Regions from separate parts of the Homo sapiens genome. Here region 2 is linked to region 1. Evidence: fine-mapped expression QTL. A gene starts in region 1. The other region holds a variant in brackets. All regions are shown on one strand. Distances are from middle to middle. Region 1 holds the start of CACNB1 (calcium voltage-gated channel auxiliary subunit beta 1). Region 2 overlaps LRRC3C (leucine rich repeat containing 3C).

Region 1 (11,213 bases):
GTTTTTTGAGACAGAGTCTCGCTCTGTCACCCAGGCCGGAGTGCAGTGGTGCGATCTCAGCTCACTCCAGCCTCCGCCTCCTTAGTTCAAGCGATTCTGGTGCCTCAGCCTCCCGAGTAATTGGGATTACAGGCGTACACCACCACACCCAGCTACGTTTTGTATTTTTAGTAGAGACGGGGTTTCACCACATTGCCCAAGCTGGTCTCGAACTCCTGACCTCAAGTGATCCGCCCAACCGGGCCTCCCAAAGTGCTGGGATTACAGGCGTGAGCCACAGCACCTGGCCTAAAATTAAATTAAAAAAAACAATAATGACAGTAATGACCATTTAGTGTTCCAGGTACCATGTTACACACTTAACACATATTCTCTCATTTATATTCATCACAAAAATAAAAAATCCTCTGAAGTTAAGTGGTATTATTATCTTCCTTTTAATGTGACTTTCCTAAGATCACACAGCTATTAAGAGTCAGGACCAGGTCAGGCACGGTGGCTCACGCCTGTAATCCCAGCACTTTGGGAGGCTGAGGGGGGCGGATCACAAGGTCAGGAGATCGAGACCATCCTGGCTAACATGGTGAAACCCCGTCTCTACTAAAAATACAAAAAATTAGCCGGGCGTGGCAGCCAGAGCCTATAGTCCCGGCTACTTGGGAGGCTGAGGCAGGAGAATGGCGTGAACCCGGGAGGCGGAGCTTGCAGTGAGCCGAGATCATGCCACTGCACTCCAGCCTGGGTGACAGAGCAAGACTGCAACTCAAAAAACAAAAAAAAGAAATTTTTAGCACTTATCAAGCCCTTATTATGTGTGGAAACAGTATAATAACACGCACTTATTATACTTATTATACTGTATAAGCAGGCAGGTATTATAGCCCACATTGTGCAGGTGAAGGACAGAGGAGCAAGGTTCAGGGGTACTAGGAAGTGGCTGGGTCAAGACTTGGCCCTGGTTCTGTCTGGGCTCTCTCTACAGCCCAGGACTGGGGGAAATCATGCCAGCACAGCCCCTCCCCACATCTTTCTCACCTTGGCCTTCTCGAGCTGCGCTAATGCCTGGCGCTCTGCTTCCTTCCTTAAGGCTTCCCGGTCCTCCTCCAGAGATACATCAGAGTCTGATGGACGGCTGGTGTAGGACTCCGCTGAGCCCTGAAAATAGAGAGAGCCAGATCAGGGCCATTGCTGCCCCTCCCAGCTCCTGGGCCTGGGAAGGCATGGAGGTGCCACCCATCATGGATGCCTCGAGCCCCAGCCAGCCCAGCATGACACCACAAGGGCTAAGACAAGGTGGTATTAGGTGGAAGGGACCAGGAGCTGAGATTTCTCAGGCCCCTGGGGAAAGTGTGGCCCTAGTGAGGGTGACAGCAGCAAGCAGGAGATGAAGGCAGGCCCAAGGACAGCTGCTTGGGGCCCAGGGAGGGGTGGGAACCTGATAGGGGCACAAGGCAAGGGAGGAATGCCAGGGACGAGTCTCTACTCCCACTGCTCCTTCCCTCCCCTGCCCCCAGCACCCGCTGAGATAGACTCAGCTGAGGTCCAGTGGCATCCATTCCAGGGACTGCAGCCACCAGCTTCGGCCTGAGCTCTCTGCACTATCAGCCGTGGACGGCCTGCTCCGCAGGATGGGGCCACCACAGATTTTGCCAGCTTCTGTTCAAGGGTAGAGGGAGACAGACTCCTACCTCCCCTGCTCCTCTTAACTGGTACTGCCAGAATCAAACTTCACTACTTACAGCCCCAGTCCTCAGGCTCTCCTAGGACACAAGAGAACCCAAGAGTTCCAGGCTGGTACAGACCGAAGAGGCAAGTTAAGAGCAGGATATGGGACAGGGCTTTCCCTGAAATGAGGGCTGCTGGGTGCCAGACAGCTGGCTTTGACCACAATGACCAACCCAGAGCACAAGGGACTCCTTTAGGGATGCACACATATGTGTAAGACACATGTTGCCCGTACAGACCTGGTAGTGGGAATGCACGTGCTTCTTCATGTGTGTGTGTGGATGTGCAAGTACAAGTGTGTGGAGGAGGGTGTGCTCTATAGTTGGCTGCATATGACTGTGTGTGTACAGCCACATGTGAGTGTACTGGGGGGGAGCTCCCAGACATCTGTGACCCTGAGGTTGGGGGACATGTGAGGGCAGGAGGCAAGAGGTGTGGATTTGTGTGACTATGCAGGGGTGGTGTTGGACAAGGCATAGGAGGTTATGTGGCAAAAGAGGAGGACTGCAGGGATGTAGGGGTTCTTTCCTGAGGGCAGAAAAGGGTCACTTGGCCAGGAAGGTCCATAAGTTTGGCATGGAGGGGACCTGGGAAAGACAGAAACAAAGTCCCACCTCTCCCCAGGGGCCTCAGGTCATTAGCTGGTGCAGCTGCCCATCTCTTTCCCAGACAAATAATGAAAATGGGAGACCCGCGGAGGAAGGGTTGGGGTGGAGCGGGGGTCACTAACAGAAGTGGGGAAAGAGGCATGAAGGAGAGAAGGAGAGAAAACCAGCGTAGCTCCCCCTCTCCCCCCTGATGGGAGCACGCAGAGTCAAAGAGCCAGGGAAACAGACAGGGAGACAGACTAGCAGAGAGGCACTCACCGACCCCAACACACACGCGGGCATGCGCGTGCACACACACACTCACCAACCCCAACACAAATGCAGGCATACGCGCGCACACACTCACTGACCCCAACACACATGCAGGCACGCGCACGTGTACACATACACACACAGTTACATGCACACACACAGACACACATGCAGACGCACATGTGCGGGCAGACACACACACATATGCAGACACACAGGTGCACACAGACACACATGTAGGCATGCGCACACATACACACACATATGCAGACACATGTACGCGCATACACACGCACACATCAGAAATGGCAGAAGACAGGAAACAGTGAGGAGGCATGGAGACACGCTGGAGTAAAGGCTGCCCTCCGTCAGCTTTCCTGAGAGGCTGTTCTACCCGCTGCCACCCCACTCCATCCCCAGCTCACCACCACCACGGTCCGGCTGGGCGCCTCCATCCCGGCACCCTCAGTGCCTGGCCCTGCTGGCCTAGGGGGTGGCCCAAACTGCCCGTTCCCTTGGGGGCTCGGGTTACAAGCAGAGTTGCTACATGTGCAGACTGCTAGGGTATATTTAGCTCAGAGATGTGGCAAGGACTGCCCCCCTCCACCACTCCCCACCACCTACCGGGGATCAGAGCTGGGGAGCTAAAAGGAGGAAGAATTGGAGGCTGGGGTCTGACTCCCTGGGTTGGCAAACACTGAAGGAGCCAAGGTCCTTTTCTGCCAAGAGGGGCAATAAAAGCACAGCGTCATTCTTCCCAGCCCTGGCCATGTCCTGCAACAGGAGGGATGAGGGGGTGATTGAAGAAAGGACTTCCTGTCTGTTCCTATACTTAGAAAAGGCTAGAATGAAGCCTCCCCTTCCTGAACCTCCCAAGTCAGACTGAGGCTCACATGTGCCAAGTGCTGTAGAGACAGAAGAAACGGAAAGAAGGGCCTCACTCTAATTAGTGGTGGATCTGCCTGGCATCACCCTCGCTCCTGGCCCAAGGTGGAAGGGAGGGGCTCATCTCCAGAGGACCCCTCCTCTGTGCTGTCTTCTGCCCTCAAATGCCCTGCCCATTTCCTCTTCAATACACGCCTTTTCCTTGTCTAATCCCAAGCCCCTCTCGCCTTTTTTGGGTACCAGGCTTTGGTGAGATGCTAAGTAGTCATAGCAACCACATGCCTCTCTCAGTCCCTCACCCTGAGCCTAAGATGGCCCAGGGTTGACAGATGAGAGCAGCCGCTTACTGACTGAGCACAGAAGACCCCAGAAAGCTATTCTCAGTTACACCCTTTCAGGCAGGGGTGCTGGGCTATCATCTTCTCTATTATAAAATCAACAGCCTCATGCCTCAACCACCCCCACCCCCGTCACCATCACCCTTTCTCTGTGCTTCTTAGACAGTCATGTCTCGAGGTGAGGAGCGTGTTTCCCTGGCCAGGACCTCACCAGGACTACAGGGACCCAAACATCCTTGCTCTGCTTTTCCTAGGACCTGCCTCCACCCAACCCTGTCACAGATTCTGGGGGAGGACATGGAAGCAGACAGCCGGCAGGGGGAGTGGGTGACAGCCCGAAGCAAGCTGGAGGGAGGCAGGCCAGGCTGTCCCTGAATGAGATGACGCAGGCCAGCAGGCAGCAGGGGAGGGTGCCTGGTGCTGGGGGAGGGGCCGGGCAGGGGCGGGGGCTGAGCGAGTGGGTGCCGCTGACAGCACATCCAGAAGAGGTCATGGGGTGTCAGGGTGATGGGGTGGCTCCAGGCAGGTGACAAATGGCACAGGGAAGGGTGCCTGGACAATACCGCAGACCTGGCTCACCAATGCTGGTCTCCACCAACCAGCCACCTCCCTCCTCTCCGCCCAGCCTCCCCATTACCTGGCGGACAAAGCTGTTGGATGTGGTATCCGAGGACGTGCTCCCATCTGACCGTTTGAATCGCCCTTTCCTCTTGCTGTATTTGCCCTGAAGAGGCCAGGAAAGGAACAAGAGTAGAATCAGAAGGGCCCTTTCCCAACCCTCATCTTGCCAGCCCCAGAGCTACAGCCAAGCTTGGGAACAGCACTCCCAGCCCCACCTCCACCCCCCTGCACATTCCTCCTGAGGTGGTACGACCCAAGGGGAGGGAGGGTCTCCCATCCTCACGGAGAGGGCCCAGAGCACAGCCAGGAGTGGGGACCAGTGCAAGAGAGCCCCAGAAGACCCACACGGAAACCACCAAACCAAGCCAGAGAGGCTGGGAAGGGGGGAGGCGCGGAGAAGCTGGAGGCTCATTAGGCAGCAGAGCTAATTAAGATGCTGGGCAGGCTGCAGAGGCCTCCGAGGAAGGGAGAGGCAGCCGGCAGTGCTGGGTGTTGGGTGGGGAGAGCGGGAAAGTCACCCCCACTCCCCCTCCGCAGGAGCAGAGCAGGGCTGTTTGTGTTGGTGGCCCCCAGAGAGGAGGAACTGCCAACCCAGGGCCCAGCCTGGCTTCTCCCCTGTGCCCAACTCTTCCCTTCGCTATTCACAGAGTAGGGAGGGGATGACAGCTCTCTTGGAGACTCAGAGCCAGATTTCTGGGGAGGGAGTAGGGGCATGGAACTGTATTTGGAGAGTAAACATCCAGCCTGATCCCTGGCACCATGGGGGCAAATTTTGCTCCCCACTCTCATCCCTTGCCCAGACAGGACTTTTTCTCAGCTCCCTCTCTCACAATCACAGTAGCTACAATCCTCCCCAAGGGGGCAAGAGGGATCAAGCTTCTACCCTGTGGCCCCCAGCTGCCACTGCCCATGCCCCATGCCCATGGTACCCATCAGGCTACGTCAATCTAAATGTCCCTCGGCCCCGCACCACATGAGCCTAGGACACAGCCCCACAGATCTCTAGGGGGTAAGCTGGCTCAGTCTCAGAGACCGGGTGGAGGAAATACCGCCTGACCATTCAGGAAGCCACACGTTCAGGTTAAGGGCGTCAGGTATTTCCAGTCCTCTTGTAAGAAGAGCTGCTTCTGGCCCTCCCCAGCTTGTACCCACACACACTTGGCCTCAGCCCAGTTCAGAATGGGGAGAGTGAGTGAGGGCTCAGACTTCCAAGTCCCCGCCCTTGGTCTCCATCCTAGACTTTCTTTGGCCAAAGAACCTGGAGGGGCCATGACCAGACTGGGGGCTTTGGCTGCTGGGATCAGGGTACAAGAAAGAGGATGGAAAATGGGAGAGGAGGGCCCCTGGGGACCTTTCCAAGATCCTCCCCTCCCCGCCCTTCTCTCAAACCAGACATATACCCCAACTCAAGTTGTGATGCTCCCTACAAACCTAGGAGGATCACCCAGTGAATCCCAGACACCACCCTCCCCCACCACTGCCAGGCTGGGCAAAGGGAGTGGCACTCAGAGGGACAGGGGACAGCTGAAAGGAAGGCCCCAGTCAGCTGCCTCCCAGGCTCAAAGGGGCCTGGGGTGGAGGAAGGTATTTTTAGGTCTGACTTGACCCCTCTACATACCCATCAGTCACATTATCATGGTGGTTACAGCTGGTGGCCACAGTAACAGAAGAGTTAATGCTATCCTTGGAGAAGGACACTCCCAAAGAAATCCCCTGGCGCGACCATCCCAGAGCCTGCTGGTCACCCCATGAGAACCCACCGCGCCCAAGAATGCCACTTCCTGGGAGTAACCAGGGGTGTAGGAAAAGTGTGCGGGTGGGGATGGAGAAGTAGACCCCTCCCCCAGGTAAAACAGCTTCCCCCCCTCCTATGAGTTGGCATCCATCCAACTTTCCAAACTTTGGAGGCGTTTTTGGGGCGGGGGTGGGGGTGGGGTAAGTCAACGTGGGTGTGGGGGGAGGGGAGCAGGTCCGACATAGAGATGGAGCCCAGGTGGCTGGGAGGGGACCTCGACCGGGGTTGGCTCTTTCCCCACCCTCGAGAACCAGTGTCTGCGGCTTTGAAGGCCTGTTGGCATTTGGCACCGCCCTCTGACCATCGCCTCGGCCACCTCCTCGTGCCACCCCCGCCCCACCCACACCCGCCTGGCGCCCCCGAGCGTGCTCTGCGTCGCCCCCCTTGCCTGGCTCGCTTTCTAGCCTCTTTCAACCTCCCCTTCTCAAGGCCCAGATCCCCCTCCACCAGCACCCCCACGCTCAGCCCACTGAAGCTGGTGCCCAAGCGGCAGGAACCTTGACGCGGGGGAGATAAGGAGGCGAGGGTGACAGGCAGCCCACCCGCCCCCTCCCCGCTCCGCAGCATCGCCACCCAGCCCCAGGCCCAGCGCCCATCAATCACAACCTGCAAGGATGGGGGGCGCGCAGGCATCCCTCTCTCCTCCGCGCCCGGCATATAACCCCTTCCTCTCCCGCGCCTCTCGAGCCGACCTTAACACGGTCCGCGGGAGCGACCCCCTCCCGTTGGGCCGGGCCACCACGCCTCACCTGCGGGCTGGGGTCGAAGACCTCCATGGGGATCTCCTGGGAGGGTGGGTAAGGGCCCCGGGACATGCTGGTCTTCTGGACCATGGAGAGGAGCCTCCCCTCCCGCCGCCGGCCCGGCCCAGCCGGGCTCCCTCAGCGCATGGGAGAGGCCGTGGGAGCCGAAAGCAGCGCGGCGCAGCCAGCACCCGGTCCAGCCACCCAGCTCGGCCTTCGGCTGCCTCCTTCCTGCCTTCCCTCGCTCCTCCCGCTCTCTCCACTGCCGCCGCCGCCTCCCCCGTAGGCTCAGCATCTCCCCGCGCCCCTCCCTCGCTCCCTCCCTCCGCCCGCCCGGCCCCGCCCCTCGCAGCCCCTCCGCCGGCTCGGCGCACACAATGGGCGTGCGGCAGCAGGGAGGCAAGCCCCTCTCGGCTCTAGGTGGCCGCAGGTGGGCCTCTGACTGGCCGTGGGGTGCAGGCGGCCCGCTGGGGCGGGAAGGCAGAAACTAGGCGTGGAACTTGGGGGAGGGGTGGGGGGGCGGTCTACCAGTGGATGCCGAGCGCTGATGGGGATTGGCATGGCTGGCACCACCCCCCTTTTGTCCCAAACCTCTCTTCCTGCGGGTCCCCCCAACCCACTCCTGTTTGGACCACCGGAACTTCCCGGTCCCGGTGATCCTGGGACCTGGCTTTAACTCCTTTCTCCCCAGTGTGGGGCCCAGGCTGCCTCAAACCAAACAGAAAAGCCTCTCCCTCCAACATGGCTCTGGGGCTGCCGGTGGGAGGCTGAGGCTGAGATGGGGAGGGTGTCCAATAGAGACAGCAAAATAAATCCCAGGGGTCCAGGAGTTCTGCCCTAATCAGTCACTAGGATACACCGCCCCCCCAACCCCTGTTCTTCCAAAAGGCCAGGAATGGGGCTGGGTGAGGTCCCTGCTCTTGGATGAGAAAAGAGGAAGAAATATGGAGCTGAGAGAGGAGAAGCTGGTAAAATCAGATCTCATGACCTTTGACCTAGAATTGCGCCACCTTTACCCCTGATTTAGGGAGAAACATCCAAGATCTGGATGCCACCCACCATGACTGGTGGAGAGAAGAGGAATAGGAGATTCTGGGCAATAGACTCTGGCGCCAATTTGGCTCAGGCTGTTTCTGGTTGTATAGCCCCGGACAAATCACCTCTCTGAGCATCAGTTTCCTCCTCTCCTATAAAATGGGGTTGCTGGTACTGTGGAGTCTGTGTCACCTGGTATTATTGGGAGGATGAGGGAGAATTAAATGAATTGCTGGGGTGTTTGGAGAAGCTGTAAGTTTCAATGAAGGGGTCACTCATGACAGGAGGACCCATTCCCTTCCTACTCCACCCCTTCTCCTGCTCCACAGAAAGGAGAGATGGAGAAGACCCTCTCCAGGTCAAGTGACCTTACAATAAGGCCACCACCTTGCTGTGTTCCGCAGGACAGGAGACTATGGGACTCCTCCTCCTCACCCAACTCTAATAGCAAGTGAATGGTCAGTCTGTCATTCCTCTGATCACAACACCTTGGGGAAGGCGGAGCAGTGAGTGAAGATGAAGCCCATTAGAAACGTTCCAGGAGAGTTCCAACCCTGAGCAGGGTTTCCACCTGCCCCTTGGAGACAAGAAAGGCTGGCATAACCGCAAAAGTATGGGCTTTGCAATCAGAAATATCTGTGTTCTGAATCTGTTACCTTAGCTGTAAAATGAGGGCAACGCTAATCGTGTTGTTGTGAGGAAGTAGCATAAATGTTGCTTCCCTTTCTCTCTCTTCTACTTTCTCAGCCAGGAAAGTTGAGATGAAACGGATAGGGTGATCAGCAGGAACCAATCATGAGTTGGAGCCTCAATTCAGATGTAGACTTCTTAAACCCCAGAATGTTCTTCTTGGATTTTTACATTGGGTGTTCCAGATCAGAAGAAAAGGACTGCTTTTTTTTTTTTTTTGAGACGGAGTCTCACTCTGTTGCCCAGGCTGGAGTGCAGTGGCGCAATCTCGGCTCACTGCAACCTCCGCCTCCTGGGTTCAAGCGATTCTCCTGCCTCAGCCTCCCCAGTAGCTGGAATTACAAGCACGCGCCGCTACGCCCGGCTAATTTTTGTATTTTTAGTGGAGACAGGGTTTCACCATGTTGGCCAGGCTGGTCTCGAACTCCTGACCTCAAGTGATCCGCCTGCCTTGGCCTCCCAAAGTGCTGGGATTACAGGCATGAGCCATCGAGCCCAACCCAATTTTTTTTTTTTTTAATTTTACTTTCTGCAATCATTCATCCATTCAGCCAGTGCGGTATTTCTGAGGTGTGTTCGATCGCGGATCCATGCCTGCCGCAGTACAGTTGTGAGCCAAATGAGACTGAGACTAGTTCCCGCCCTCCAAGAGCTTGCAAGACCCGCAGTGGCGTAAAAACACTAACATCTTTTAGTGATCGATTCTGCACTCCAGGGGTTTTCAATCTACTACAAGAGTGAATAAGAGTTCGCCTTTGTCTGATATCTGTTGTCATTCTCTCTCGCTTCTTTAACTGATTTTTTCTCAGCTAATAAAACATCCACCCACAACCCCCCGAACGCCCGCAAACACCAGGCCACTCTAGCAAAACCTCTCTCACTCCGCCTGCGCAATCCAGCTGACTTCCGGTTACAGATAACCACGTGATTGGGAACCCTTGCTGCGCATGTCTAGTAGGAAGTCGGACTATACCACTTTCCCTACGGAAGGGGTACTTTTTTATGTTTTTAAGTTTAAAACCGATTTCTGATATTTGACTTTTATCATTTCAGGCCTATATGGAGGCTATGAGTGAGTTTAGTGTGGCAGAAGATGAAAGAACCGGACAGGAATACGGACGAAATTGGAGCAGGGTTTGGGCTCTCCCCTTCGCAGATAATGGGAGGAGCCGGGCCCGAGCGAGCTCTTTCCTTTCGCTGCTGCGGCCGCAGCCATGAGGTGAGGGCGAGCTGGTCTCCATCAGGCGCTGACGCGTGTCGACAAGGGACTGTCGGTCTTGGGACCGCAGCTGGGGTTGGGGGAGATGAAATGGAGGCCGCCCTAAAGCGGCCGGTCCCGGGGTTTGGGGTAGGCCGGAGCACTTTCGTCCCGGGCCTCCGGAGTGAGGGGGGGCGGGGAGCGTCGCAGCAACTGAGACCAGGAAAAGTCTGCCCCGGCTGGTGCCGCACCGCACACGTGTCCGGTCGACCCACGCGAGCAGAGCAAACGGAGCGAACAAGACCAAGCCGTGGGCCCTTTCTTGCTTGGCACACCCGGAGCGGAGCCGATCTCTGCTTTCACGTGATGTAGGGCAAGCCTAGTGTAGGCCCCAGGCCTCCGACTGCCGAGAGAGGTGATCTCTAACTCTTGACTCCATTCACTCCTTTGGCCTCTCATAAAGGAAATCTCTGCGAATAGCCGAACGAGGCTTGTTACTGTGATAAAACAGGGAAATAAGCCCAGAAAACAGAGTAACTTGCCTGCATTCCTAGACTAGAAATCAGGTCTACTCACCTCGAATATTCTTTAAACGCTGAGTACCAGAAATGGCATAACCCCCCTATTCAATCCAATAAGTCCTTGGCTTGACTTTCCAGAGGAGAAATGCGAACATGAGGCTCCGAGAGGTGAAGGCATAGCGTGGGTTTTGAAGTCTTAAACCCAAGGGGGCCAGCTGCATAGCCCAGAGCCTTAAAGATGATTTAGGGAAGAGTCTTATTTCGCGGCTGTGGTGTGGGTCACAAAGGGCAGGTCTTGATGGGGACGTTCATTCTTGCCCAGGATTGGCTTTCAGAGTCTAATCATGTTTTCTGTGTGTCTAGTATGCTCAGGCTTCAGAAGAGGCTCGCCTCTAGTGTCCTCCGCTGTGGCAAGAAGAAGGTCTGGTTAGACCCCAATGAGACCAATGAAATCGCCAATGCCAACTCCCGTGAGTACCTGGGATCTGTCTCTTCACCCTACTTCCTTCTTTTCTCCTGCGTCAGATTAATGATAACACAATTGTGTTGACTTTTTTTTTTTTTTTTAGACAGTCTTGCTCTGTTGTCCAGGCTGGAGTGTAGTGGTGCCATCTGATCATTGCAACCCCTGCTCCCAGGCTCAAGTGATTCTCCCACCTCAGCCTCCTGAGTAGCTGGGATTAGAGGTGTGCACCACCACACCCAGCTAATTTACTCTTTATATTTTATTTTATTTTTTTTGGGACAGAGTCTCACTTTGTCACCCAGACTGGAGTGCAGTGGTAGGATCTCAGCTCACCGC
Region 2 (11,213 bases), 740 kb after region 1:
CTCCCTCAGTAACAATCACAGCAAACATTATTGTTTGCTATGTTCCAGGCACTGGGCAAAGGGCTTTATTTGTCTGTTACAGAACCACCTCCCCCTGGGCTGCTAGACTTGCTCCCTGTCTCACATTTGCATTTCCCGAACAGAGTGAATTCTCAATAAATGTTAACTGAACTATGTAACGGAACTGTTACCAGAAAGGGGTCCCGATCCAGACACCAAGAGAGGGTTCTTGGATCTCACGCAAGAAAGAATTCAGGGTGAGTCCACAGTGCAAAGTAAAAGCAAGTTTATTAAGTAAAGGAATAAAATAATGGCTACTCAACAGACAGAGCAGCCCCGAGGGCTGCTGGTTGCCCATTTTTATGGTTATTTCTTGATGATGTGCTAAACACGGGGTGGGTTATTCGTGCTCCCCTTTTTAGACCATTTAAGGTAACTTCCTGACGTTGCCATGATATTTGTAAACTGTCATGGCGCGGCTGAAAGTGTAGCAGTGAGGACCACCAGCGGTCACTCTCATTGCCATTTTGGTTTTGATGGGTTTTGGCCAGCTCCTTTACTGCAACCTGGTTTATCAGCAAGGTCTTTATGACCTGTATTTTATGCCGACCTCCTATCTCATCCTGTGACTTAGAATGCCTTAACTGTAGGGTTCAGCCTCATTTTACCCAGCTTCTATTTAAGACGGAGTTGCTCTGGTTCACACGCCTCTGACAGAACTGCACGTCCCAGACCACAGCCACACAGCTCTCCCTTGTTCTTGCCTCAGCCTCGTACCCTTTTCCATCTGATGGACTCCTATACACCCCTCAAGGCCTACCTCACCTGTCACCTTCTCGGTGCAGCCTTCCCCAGTGTCCAAGCAGAGTCCACTGCTTCATCCTCCAGGCTGCTGTGACCCTGGCGGATCCCTCAACCCAAGCCTTCCCTTAGGTGATCGGAGGGCTATATTTGTGCACACACCAGTCTTCCCTCATTGGCTGGGGGACATTTAGTTCTCAGCCAGGCGCGGTGGCTCTACACAAAAATACAAAAGTTAGCTGGGTGTGGTGGTGTGCGCCTGTAGTCCCAGCTACTTGGGAGGGTGAGGTGGGAAGACGGCTTGAACCCAGGAGGTTGAGGCTGCAAGTGAGCTGTGATCATGCCACTGTGGTCCAGCCTGGATGACAGAACGAGACCTGTCTCAAACAAAAGAAAAAAACAACTCTGAATCCCCAATGCCTAAGAGGCCCTGGTACACAGTACATGCTCAGATATGTGTTAAGTAAATGAGACAGTATCTCCAAGCATGGCAGCATGAAGTGTATGTATACACCCCTTGCTCTTTTCTACAGGGAACAACAATAGCAGAGGCCTTTGTTGCCCTCTCCGCGAAACTGCCCAGTAACCTGGCATTAGACGGGTCCCTGGCTGACCTGATAAAGAAGGTAGCCCTTCCTTATCTATCTTCTCTATCTATCTATCTACCTACCTATCTATCTATCTTTTTCCTTTCAGTTATCCCCCCATCCAGGCTGGACCTGGAGGTCTCCAACATCAGGGAGGGAAGGGGATGGAGGCCTGCTGAACTTCTTTCCCCTGTGGTCACATATTGGGGATATAGAGTTACCACCCTTGGAGGGAGGAGCTGTGACTCAGACTGCCGAGGGTGGGAGGCTAAGAGGCTCACTTTCCTGAGCCCTGAACTTGGGAGCCAGGGCCCTGCCATGCCTCAGTCTCTTCCCTGCCTGCCATTCTAGACACGTGGAGCATCAGGCTAGAAGGGATCTCAGAGACTGTGAGGGTCCAGAAAACAGAAAGGATGTGCCCCGTGGCATAAACATCTGCTGGTCTTGGGCCTAGCCCGAGAATTTTCCCAGGCACTTCACAGGCCAAGACAGAGCGTGAGACTCCCCGGTGATGGCTTTTCCAGACCCATGCCATGTGTCCCTCAGGTCTTTATCATCTCACACCTAGACCTTTGCCATAACTGGTTTTCCTGCCACCAATACATCCCCGACACAACCAACAGAGTGATCCAGACATCAAATCTAATTTTAAAACCTTTCAATCCGACCAGATGCGGTGGCTCACGCTTGTAATCCCAACACTTTGGGAAGTCGAGGAGGGTGGATCACTTGAACCCAGGAGTTTGAAACCAGCCTGCTCAATATGACCAAACCTCATCTCTACACAAAAATACAAAAAAAAAAAAAAAAAATATCTGGGCATGGTGGCATGCACCTCTGGTTGTAATCCCTTGGGAGGCTGAGGTGGAAGGATCTCCTGAGCCTGGGGAGGTTGAAGTTACCGTGAGCTGTGATGCCACCACTGCACTCCAGGCTGGGAGACAGAGTGGGACCCCGTCTCGAAAAAAATAAAAATAAAAATTTGGCCTGGCACAGCGGCTCACACCTGTAATCCCAGCGCTTTGGGAGGCTGAGGTTGGAGGATCACTTGCGGTCAGGAGTTCAAGACTAGCCTGGACAACATGGTAAAACCCCGTCTCTATTAAAAAAATAATAACATTAATAAAAAAAATTGGCTGGGCATGGTGGTGCACGCCTGTAATCCCAGCTACTCAGGAGGCTGAGGTAGGAGAATTGCTTGAACCCAGGAGGCAGAGATTGCAGTGAGCCGAGATCAAGCCACTGCACTCCAGCCTGGGTGACAGAGTGAGACTCTGTCTAAAAAAAATAAATAAATAGGCCGGGCGCAGTGGCTCACGCCTGTAATCCCAGCACCTTGGGAGGCCAAGGCAGGCAGATAACCTGAGGTCAGAAGTTCAAGCCCAGCTTGGTCAACATGGTGAAACCCCGTATCTACTGAAAATACAAAAATTATCCGGGTGTGGTGACGGGTGCCTGTAATCCCAGCTACTCCGGAGGCTGAGGCAGGAGAATCGCCTGAACCTGGGAGGCAGAGGTTTCAGTGAGCTGAGATCATGCCATTGCACTCCAGCCTGGGCAACAAGAGTGAAACTCCGTCTCAAAAAAATAAATAAATAAAATAATAAAAACTAAATAAAACCTTTTTAATCCATAAGCCACGGAATCAAGTCCCAATGCATCCATGGCGTGCAAGCCACAAGGATCTGCTCCCTTTTTACTTCTTTACCCCTGGCCTTTGCCACCACCCCCTCCATCCACGCAGTGATCTGGAAGCCAAGCCATTTCATGCTCCCTTGCTCTTGCACATTCTGCTTCTCCACCTGATTAACCCAGCCTTGAAAGCCCAGATCAAATGTCACTCCTTGGTGAAGCCTTCCTTGATTATACCCTGGAAAAGCTAGTGTACAGTTAAGGATGCTCTCAGCAGAAATCAACAGAAAACCCAAATAATGATTCTTACCCTAGGTTGCCATTAGAATCACCTGAGGAGCTTTTGAAAATTCCCATCACCTGGCCAGGCACGGTGGCTCACTCCTGTGATCCCAGCACTTTGGGAGGCTGAGGCAAGTGGATCACCTGAGGTCAAGAGTTCGAGACTGGCCTGGCCAACATGGAGAAAACCCGTCTCTACTAAAAATACAAAAATTAGCTGGGCATAGTGGCGTGTGCCTGTAATCCCAGCTTCTTGGGAGGCTGAGGCAGGAGAATCTCTTGAACCCAGGAGGCAGAGGCTACTGTGAGCCGAGATGGTGCCACTGCACTCCAGCCTGGGCGACAGAGTGAGACTCTGTCTCAACAAGAAAAAAAAATCTCCATTACCAGACACATGCCACATGGGTGTACCCAGGCATCAGCAGTTTTCAAAACTGCCTATATACCAGTGTGCAGCCAAGTTGAGAAGCACTGAAGTTAGGGGGTTTTCTTTCTCACGTATTGAGTCTAGAGGTGGCAGTTGCTGGTGTTGGTTGAGTAGCTCAGCGATTTCCAGGCCAACATCTCAGTAATACTCAACCCTCCCTTTATGCTTTGTTGTCTCATGGCCACGAGATGGCCTGAGTTGACCCTTTCATGTTCAAAGTAGGGGCCAGGCACGGTGGCTCACGCATGTAATCCCCAGCACTTTTTGCAGGGGGCCAAGGCAGGAGCCTTAGGAGTTTGAGACCAGCCTAGGCAACAAAGTGAGACCCTCATCTCTACAAAAAAAAAAAAAAAAATTGGCTGGTTGTGGTGGCACATGTCTGTGGTCCCAGCTACATAGAAGGCTGAGGCAGGAAGATTGCTTGAGTTTGGTAGGGGGTCAAGGCTGCAGTGAGCTGTGTTTGCATTCCAGCCCGGGCAACACAGTGAGACCCTCTCTCAAAAAAAAAGGCTGGTGCACTGGCTCACACCTGTAATCCCAGCACTTTCAGAGGCCAAGGAAGGTGGATCACCTGAGGTCAGGCGTTCAAGACCAGCCTGGCCAACATGGCGAAACCTCATCTCTGCTAAAAATACAAAAATTACCTGGGTGTGGTGATGCAGGCCTGTAATCCCAGCTACTCAGGAGGCTGAGGCAGGAGAATCACTTGAATCTGGGAAGTGAAGGTTGTAGTGAAGCGAGATCATGCAATTGCACTCCAGCCTGGGTGCACTCAGAGAGAGACTCCAGACTCTGCACTCCAGAGAGAGACTCCATCTCAAAGAAAAAAAAAAAAAAAAAGGTAGGGAGAGGAGCAGAGCCCAGCCCTATCCTCTCTTACCAGCAAATCAAAGACTGTCCCACAAACCTATTCTGCGGACTTCTGCTTAGATGTCATTGACCAGAATTGGGCCACCCTCAGCTGCAAAGGAGATTGAAGAAGTAGGCAACAGGATTTCTGATGGGCTGAGATCAATCAGGTTGAATCATCAAGGACTGAGTGCATTGCCACTCCCAAAGCCATGTGTGTTAATCTGGTAGTAGGAGGGAAGGGATGATTCTGCCATGTTATTAATACTTATTCTCTCTCTGTGCTTCACAGCTCCCTGTACAAACATCAATTAATGCAGGCAGCACATCAAAGCATTGTGGAGACATGTCTGTGCCTCCCTCCAGACCATCAATTCTCAACTCAGGCTGCTCGTTAGACATACCTGAGGAGCTTTCGAAAGAAACCAGTGCCTAGACCCCATGCACAGAGATTTTAATGTAATTGGTCCAGATGAAGCCCCAGCATAACTAATCTGTAAAAGCTCCCCAAGTGATTTGAATGTGCAGGGTGTTTTGAGAACCCTGCCATAGACCCAGCACCTTAAGAACCCTGTCTATGTCCCCTTCAACTAGCACATAAGGCTCACAGGAAATCCTCACTGAATGAATAAACAAATAAATGGATGGCAGAGAATTTCTGCTCCAATTCTGCAGCCCCTAGTGGGCAGTGTGCACTGTCCTAAGTGTGGTTCCTCCTTCCCCCCAGATCTCCCTCCTTCACCGAGTTTGCACTCAGACTCCCTTAATTAACCACATCTGCAGCTCCAGCTGGGCTCCTGCTTCTCCCACAGCTGCTGTGCTGGACACCCTAGTTCCACTCTTTTCCTGGAAGCTGCCCTAGTCTTAGAAGGAAATAACCCTCCATCAACAGCCAGGCTCAATTCTTGTGCCTCAGTTAAAGCCCCTGCCCAGTGTGAGAGAGGAACAGGGGGAAAGGGAGGATTGCTCAGCTTTCTGTCCCACATTCAGCTACAGTCCCGAAATGGACACCAAGTAGCCAGCAGCAGAGTGTCCGGCCCTCAGAGAAAAGGTTTGCTTGTTGCTTCTCCTGCCTAAGTGTAGAAAGTTATCTGATTCCTTAGACAAATGTGAGTCTGCAAAATTCCCCTGTTGACATCACAGGAATAAGTCTGTGGTGAGTACATCCTCAGAGATGATATCATCTGGCATCCTACCATCTGGTCTGGTCCCCATCATGCTTCTGAAACTGCTTGTTCAAAGGTAACCTACAGGGCCAGCCTCACAGGCATGCGGCTGACGAGGTCCCACAAGACCTCATGCCCTGTGCTCACAAGAGCTCTGCACTTGGTTTTACACTCTGCTGCTGTCGTCATCTTAAAATTCTTTTTTATTTTTATTTTTTAGAGACAGAGTCGCACTCTGTCACCCAGGCTAGAGTGCAGTGGTGCAATCACAGCTCACTGCAGCCTCCACTTCCCAGGCTCAAGCCATCCTCCTACCTCAGCCTCCCGAGTAGCTAGGACTAAAGTATGCACCACCATGGTCTGCTAATTTATTTTTCTTTTTGTAGAAAGTGCATTTGGACAATTTTTTTTTTTTTTCTGGAGAGACGAGGTTTCACTATGTTGCACAGGCCAGTCTCAAACTCATGAGGCTCCTTGGTCCTTGGCCTCCGAAAGTGCTGAGATTATAGGCATGAGCCACTGCACCCAGCCTTGAAATTCTTTTTTTTGAGACAGGGTCTTAATGCGTCACCTAGGCTGGAGTCAAGTGGCACGACCCAGGCTCGGTGAAACCTCTGCTTCCTGGGTTCAAGTGATTCTCGTGCCTCAGCCTCCCAAATAGCTGGGATTACAGGTGTGTGCCACCTCAGCCCAGTTAATTTTTTGTATTTTTAGTAGAGATGGTGTTTCGCCACATTGGCCAGGCTGGTCTCAAATTCCTGGCCTCAAGTGATCCACCCACCTCGGCCTCCCGAAGAGCTAGGATTACAGGCGTGAGCCACCATACCTGGCAAGGCCTTGAAATTCTTAAGTTTTCACCTGGGTGTGGTGGCTCACATCTGTAATCCCAGCACTTTGGGAGGCCGAAGTGGGTGGATCACTAGAGGTCGGGAGTTCAAGACCAGCCTGGCCAATATGGTGAAACCCTGTCTCTACTAAAAATACAAAAATTAGCCGGGTTTGGTCGGCAGGCACCTGTAGTCTCAGCTACTCGGGAGACTAAGGCAGGAGAGTCGTTTTAACCTGGGAGGCAGAGGTTGCAGTGAGCCAAGGTTGTGGCACTGCACTCCAGCCTGGGCCACAGAGTGAGACTTTATC[T/TA]AAAAAAAAAAAAAAAAAAAAAGGAAGAAATTCTTAACAGGTTTTTGAAACAAGGGACCCCCCCACACACACCCCATTTTTATTTTGCACTCAGCTCTACAATTCCGTGTCCAGTCCTGGTCACCCATAGTCTTCCAAAATCCAGCAAGAAAAATCCTTCTCAGAAAGGTCTCCAATGCGTATGACCTCATCTTCCTTCGTGTAAGTATATCCACCCCTAGTCTCTGTGACACCCCACTCTCCTGTTCTCTTCCACCTCTCTGACCTGGCAGGAGGGCTTCCAGGTTCCGTACAATACAATACCGTGGGTACCATCAGGCTCAACGTGCAAGGATGTAGGGTATTGGTATGTGTGGCAGAGAGGCACAGAGGTAAGAGCTGCTAGCAGGCAATGGAAAGTGGTTGGACAAGGAGTTAGAAAACTGGGCTCTGGTCTTTGGCCACTGACTCATTGTGTAACTCTGGTCACATTCTGGGCCTCAGTTTACCGGTCTGCAAACTAAGGAGGGATCAACTGGCTGGTCCCTTCCTTTGAGCTCTATCAATCATTGAGGCTCTGAATCCCAGCACCGAACTGGAGATAGTGTGGGTAGGATGGTGCCATAGGAGGCACCATGTGGTTGGACTTGAGGGTCAAGGGAGTTGCAGGGGATAAGCCACCATGGGCTAAGGAATGAGATGGGTCATCCACATGGATCACATCTATGACCCTTTGTCACCTCTGCCCCTGCACAGCATACGAGAGGAGGTGAAGGGGAAAAGCCTGGCGTGGGTAATGAAATCATGGAGGAAGACCATGATGTGTTCTGGAAGTCAGTAATCCTAACAACTAGCCTTTGCACAGCACTTCACAAAGTACCTTCACATCCACTCAACCCTGGCGGGTCCTCCCAACCCTGCAGCAGTGTCAGGTGACATGCCCAGGTCACACACTAATCTCATCTTCTGCCTTGAAATCCTTCCTTCCCACTACCCAGTGAACATTAGGAGAGGGTGGTATCACGGAGTGGCGTGGCCTGCAAATGATGCCTGGGATAGGGACACCCTGGGGGAACAAGTCATCCAAGCCATCTTTGGTGCCCAGGCCTGAGGGAGAGTTCAAAGTGCCAACCTGAGAGTCCAGGGCTCTAGCAAACTGAGAGAACCTGAGTCAGTTCTCATCCAGATCATAAAATCAGCAGGAAAACTCAGAGATGACCACATCAGGCTTCAGGTGCCTTAAAGAACTCCTTCCAACTCCTAGAGAAGCAATCAATCTACCACGCAGAGAACAAACTGAAATTGAACCACAGCACCCCTGGCAGGCAGGAGGTCTGGGCACTGCGAGGAGCCAGGAAATGAGGAACCCTGGACAGACATGTTTTCCAAGGAAAGACTAGGGGAAGTTTGCTCACCGTGGAAGAAGGGGCCACCGAGCATGGAAGAATGTGCCATGGCGTGAAAGAATGGCAGAAGGGAGTAGGGAGAGGAATGGAGTTGGGGGAATACAGGTTGCTGGAGACACTGGATGTGAGATGGGGCCCACCCAGTTCTGCCCGCCAGGCCTGCCAAGCAGGGATCCTTCTGCCCAGCCAGGTTCTGGGTAAGGAAGAGGAGTTCTGGGAAGCAGTTTCAGCCTTGGGGAGTGAGGGAAGATGGCAGCATCAAGGCCTTGGGAGGGGAGCCTGGTGCAGGGAATGGAATTGGGTCCTGGTCTCCCCACAACAGAGTTCATCAGGGTCCAGGATCTGCCCTCTCTTGGCATTGCCTGGCCACACCATGGCTCAGGTATCCGACACCTGGGCCCAGAGTCACATGCCAGGAAACCCAACACTCTTGGGTCCCAGCCCCCAACTTCCAGCAGCTACGAGCAAACAGGGCTTCTGGAGGAGGAAGCGGGTCTCCAGAGCCCAGCAGCAGGGAGCCTACGTCCAGGGACAGGGCATCTGCACTGGAGAAGGCTCTGCCACCAACAGGGGTGAGAGGAATGGAGGAGGACGGGGAGGAGGAGGGAGGAAGTACAGAGCAGAGAGGACAGAGCTGGGGCAGGCAGAGGGGTGGATGCTCCCGGAAAAGGGGTAGATGGGCATAGAAGGTGGGGCCAGAGGTCTATTTTACCTAGTCACCTGGCCTAGCTGGATGCCCTGACACCCTGTCGCTCATCCGTCCCCTTGTCTCCATCACGCGAGTGCCAACCAGACCCTCTGGTGCCTACCTAGCCCACTTGGCAGCCACCCAGGTAGGTAGGGGAAGAAGACTTTATTCCAATGAGAGAAATCAACACATGGACAGAGGCAGAAACTTAGAAACCCCCAGACCCAGAATGACCAACAAGGCCTCACAGATTAACCTTCTAGAATCAACAGACCCTAAAAGAGTTTCAAGTGCAAGAGACCCTTTACCCAAAAGACCCTATTGAGGAGACTTAAATCAAGAGAGACCCCAATAAGGAAGTGAAAAAGTCACCCAGGCTTGAGAGAAGCCCCCAGAGAAGAGGCCCCAGCCCAAAAAGACTCCCCAGAGGGACCTCGGGAGGAGAAAGCTGGCAGTGGGGCATGCGATTCTCTTGACTCACTCCTCCTTTATGTGGCCTTTCCTTCCCCAGATCCTACTGCACTCCAGGACTATGCCAATTTATGGCCATGCTCCCAACAGCAGGTCACCTCCTGCCCCTCCTGCTGGTGATAGGCACAGGGGGTACTGTGCCCAGCCCCCAGGTGCCTCCCCGGGGCTGTTATGTGGCAAAGGAAGCAGGTGAACGGACGTTCCGCTGCAGCCAGGCAGGCCTCAGTGCTGTGCCCTCCGGCATCCCCAATGACACCCGCAAGCTCTACCTGGATGCCAACCAGCTGGCATCGGTGCCTGCTGGTGCCTTCCAGCACCTGCCTGTCCTGGAGGAGTTGGATCTGTCCCATAATGCCCTTGCCCACCTCTCAGGGGCGGCTTTCCAGGGCCTGGAGGGCACATTGCGCCACCTCGACCTCTCTGCCAACCAGCTGGCCTCAGTGCCCGTGGAGGCCTTTGTGGGGCTACAGATCCAAGTGAACCTATCCGCAAACCCATGGCACTGTGACTGCGCCCTCCAGGAAGTGCTCCGGCAGGTGAGGCTGGTGCCGGGCACTGGGACAGGCATCGTGTGTGGCTCAGGAGCCCGACCGGACCTCGTGGGGCAGGAGTTCCTGCTGCTGGCAGGGGAGGAAGAGCTGTGTGGGTCGGGGTGGGGTGGGGCCCGGAGGAGCACCGATGTGGCCCTGCTGGTCACCATGGGGGGCTGGCTGACACTCATGGTGGCTTATCTGGTGCATTATGTGTGGCAGAACCGAGATGAGACCAGGCGCTCCCTCAAGCGGGCCCCAGTGCTGCCCGTGCGTTCCGAGGACTCCTCCATCCTCAGCACAGTGGTCTGATGACCCAGGATGCTCCTCCAGCCACACCCCACACTCCTGCCCCTATGCCCTCTCCTTTGCTCTGACCCCCTCTGCCTCCTGTGCAGCTTCACCCCTGCCCCCAAGCCCATCCCACCCCTCCCTCCTTTATTCCCCCTAAATACCTGTGCTGGTTCTCTCTCTCTCTCTCTGTGTCGTCTTAACCAACACCATCTTTGGTGCCTGGAGTTTTTTGGTGCCTACTCTGTGCCTGGATTGTGCTAGACTCAGAAAACCCATAACAGAGAATGACAGCAGGTGGGGTGGGAGCAAGGGAGGAGGGGCTGTGGGGGGGCAGGTTGAGGAGGGAGCCTGCACCTGGCCCAGGGCGATTTCAAAGGCTTCGCTGTAGGATGTTTGAACTGATTCTTTTTTTTTTGAGATGGAGTCTCACTGTGTCAGCAGACTGGAGTGCAGTGGCAGGATCTCCGCTCACTGCAACCTCTGCCTCCCAGGTTCAAGTGATTCTCCTGCCTCAGCCTCCTGAGTAGCTGGGACTACAGGCGCGCGCCACCACGCCCAGCTAATTTTTGTATTTTTTAGTAGAGTTGGGGTTTCACCATGTTGGCCAGGATGGTCTTGATCTCTTGACCTCGTGATCTGCCCGCCTTGGCCTCCCAAAGTGCTAGGATTACAGGCGTGAGCGCGCCAGGCCCGAACTGACTCAGGTGGGTGGATCACCCAAGGCAGCACGCAACGTGAACCCCTTGGGCGATTACAGGCCCACACAGCCCGTCCACCACCAGCTTCTTCCTGCCCTACAGAGCTGAGGCCTGGAGTGGCAGAGAAAGCCAAGGGTACCCTGAGGGAGCCCCCAGCTGAGGGGGAGTGAAGCCCCACCCTTTCCTGAATTGGGCTCACAAACAGAGGCTTCGAGAGCGCAACTCTAAGACTGAGGTCTCCTACAGAGTGAGGGGCATCAAAGCGA

The links. PIP is the estimated chance that this variant, and not a neighbour inherited with it, causes the effect.
Region 2: its variant is fine-mapped to the expression of CACNB1 in whole blood (INTERVAL, PIP 0.94).

What each region holds. Positions count from the first base shown.
Region 1 is chr17:39,190,439-39,201,651 of GRCh38, forward strand. It overlaps CACNB1 (calcium voltage-gated channel auxiliary subunit beta 1), which reads right to left and starts at 7,231. Exons shown (of 14, transcript NM_000723.5): 1 at 6,974-7,231; 2 at 4,446-4,532; 3 at 1,036-1,155. The coding sequence starts at 7,057. RPL19 (ribosomal protein L19) reads left to right here and starts at 9,845. Exons shown (of 6, transcript NM_000981.4): 1 at 9,845-9,911; 2 at 10,775-10,881. The coding sequence starts at 9,907. It overlaps LOC124903996 (a long non-coding RNA gene), which reads right to left and starts at 10,776. Exons shown (of 2, transcript XR_007065745.1): 1 at 10,467-10,776; 2 at 9,717-10,360. RefSeq lists an enhancer at 2,415-2,915 and silencers at 6,429-6,558, 6,989-7,388, 7,399-7,528.
Region 2 is chr17:39,934,468-39,945,680 of GRCh38, forward strand. LRRC3C (leucine rich repeat containing 3C) reads left to right here. Exons shown (of 4, transcript NM_001195545.2): 2 at 1,335-1,427; 3 at 6,976-7,082; 4 at 9,466-10,532. The coding sequence starts at 7,057. The coding sequence ends at 10,267. Among named protein-coding and RNA genes, the nearest start is that of LRRC3C, 12 kb to the left of the region's middle. RefSeq lists enhancers at 3,860-3,979, 3,990-4,039. The variant T/TA (reference allele first, on the strand shown) is at 6,882.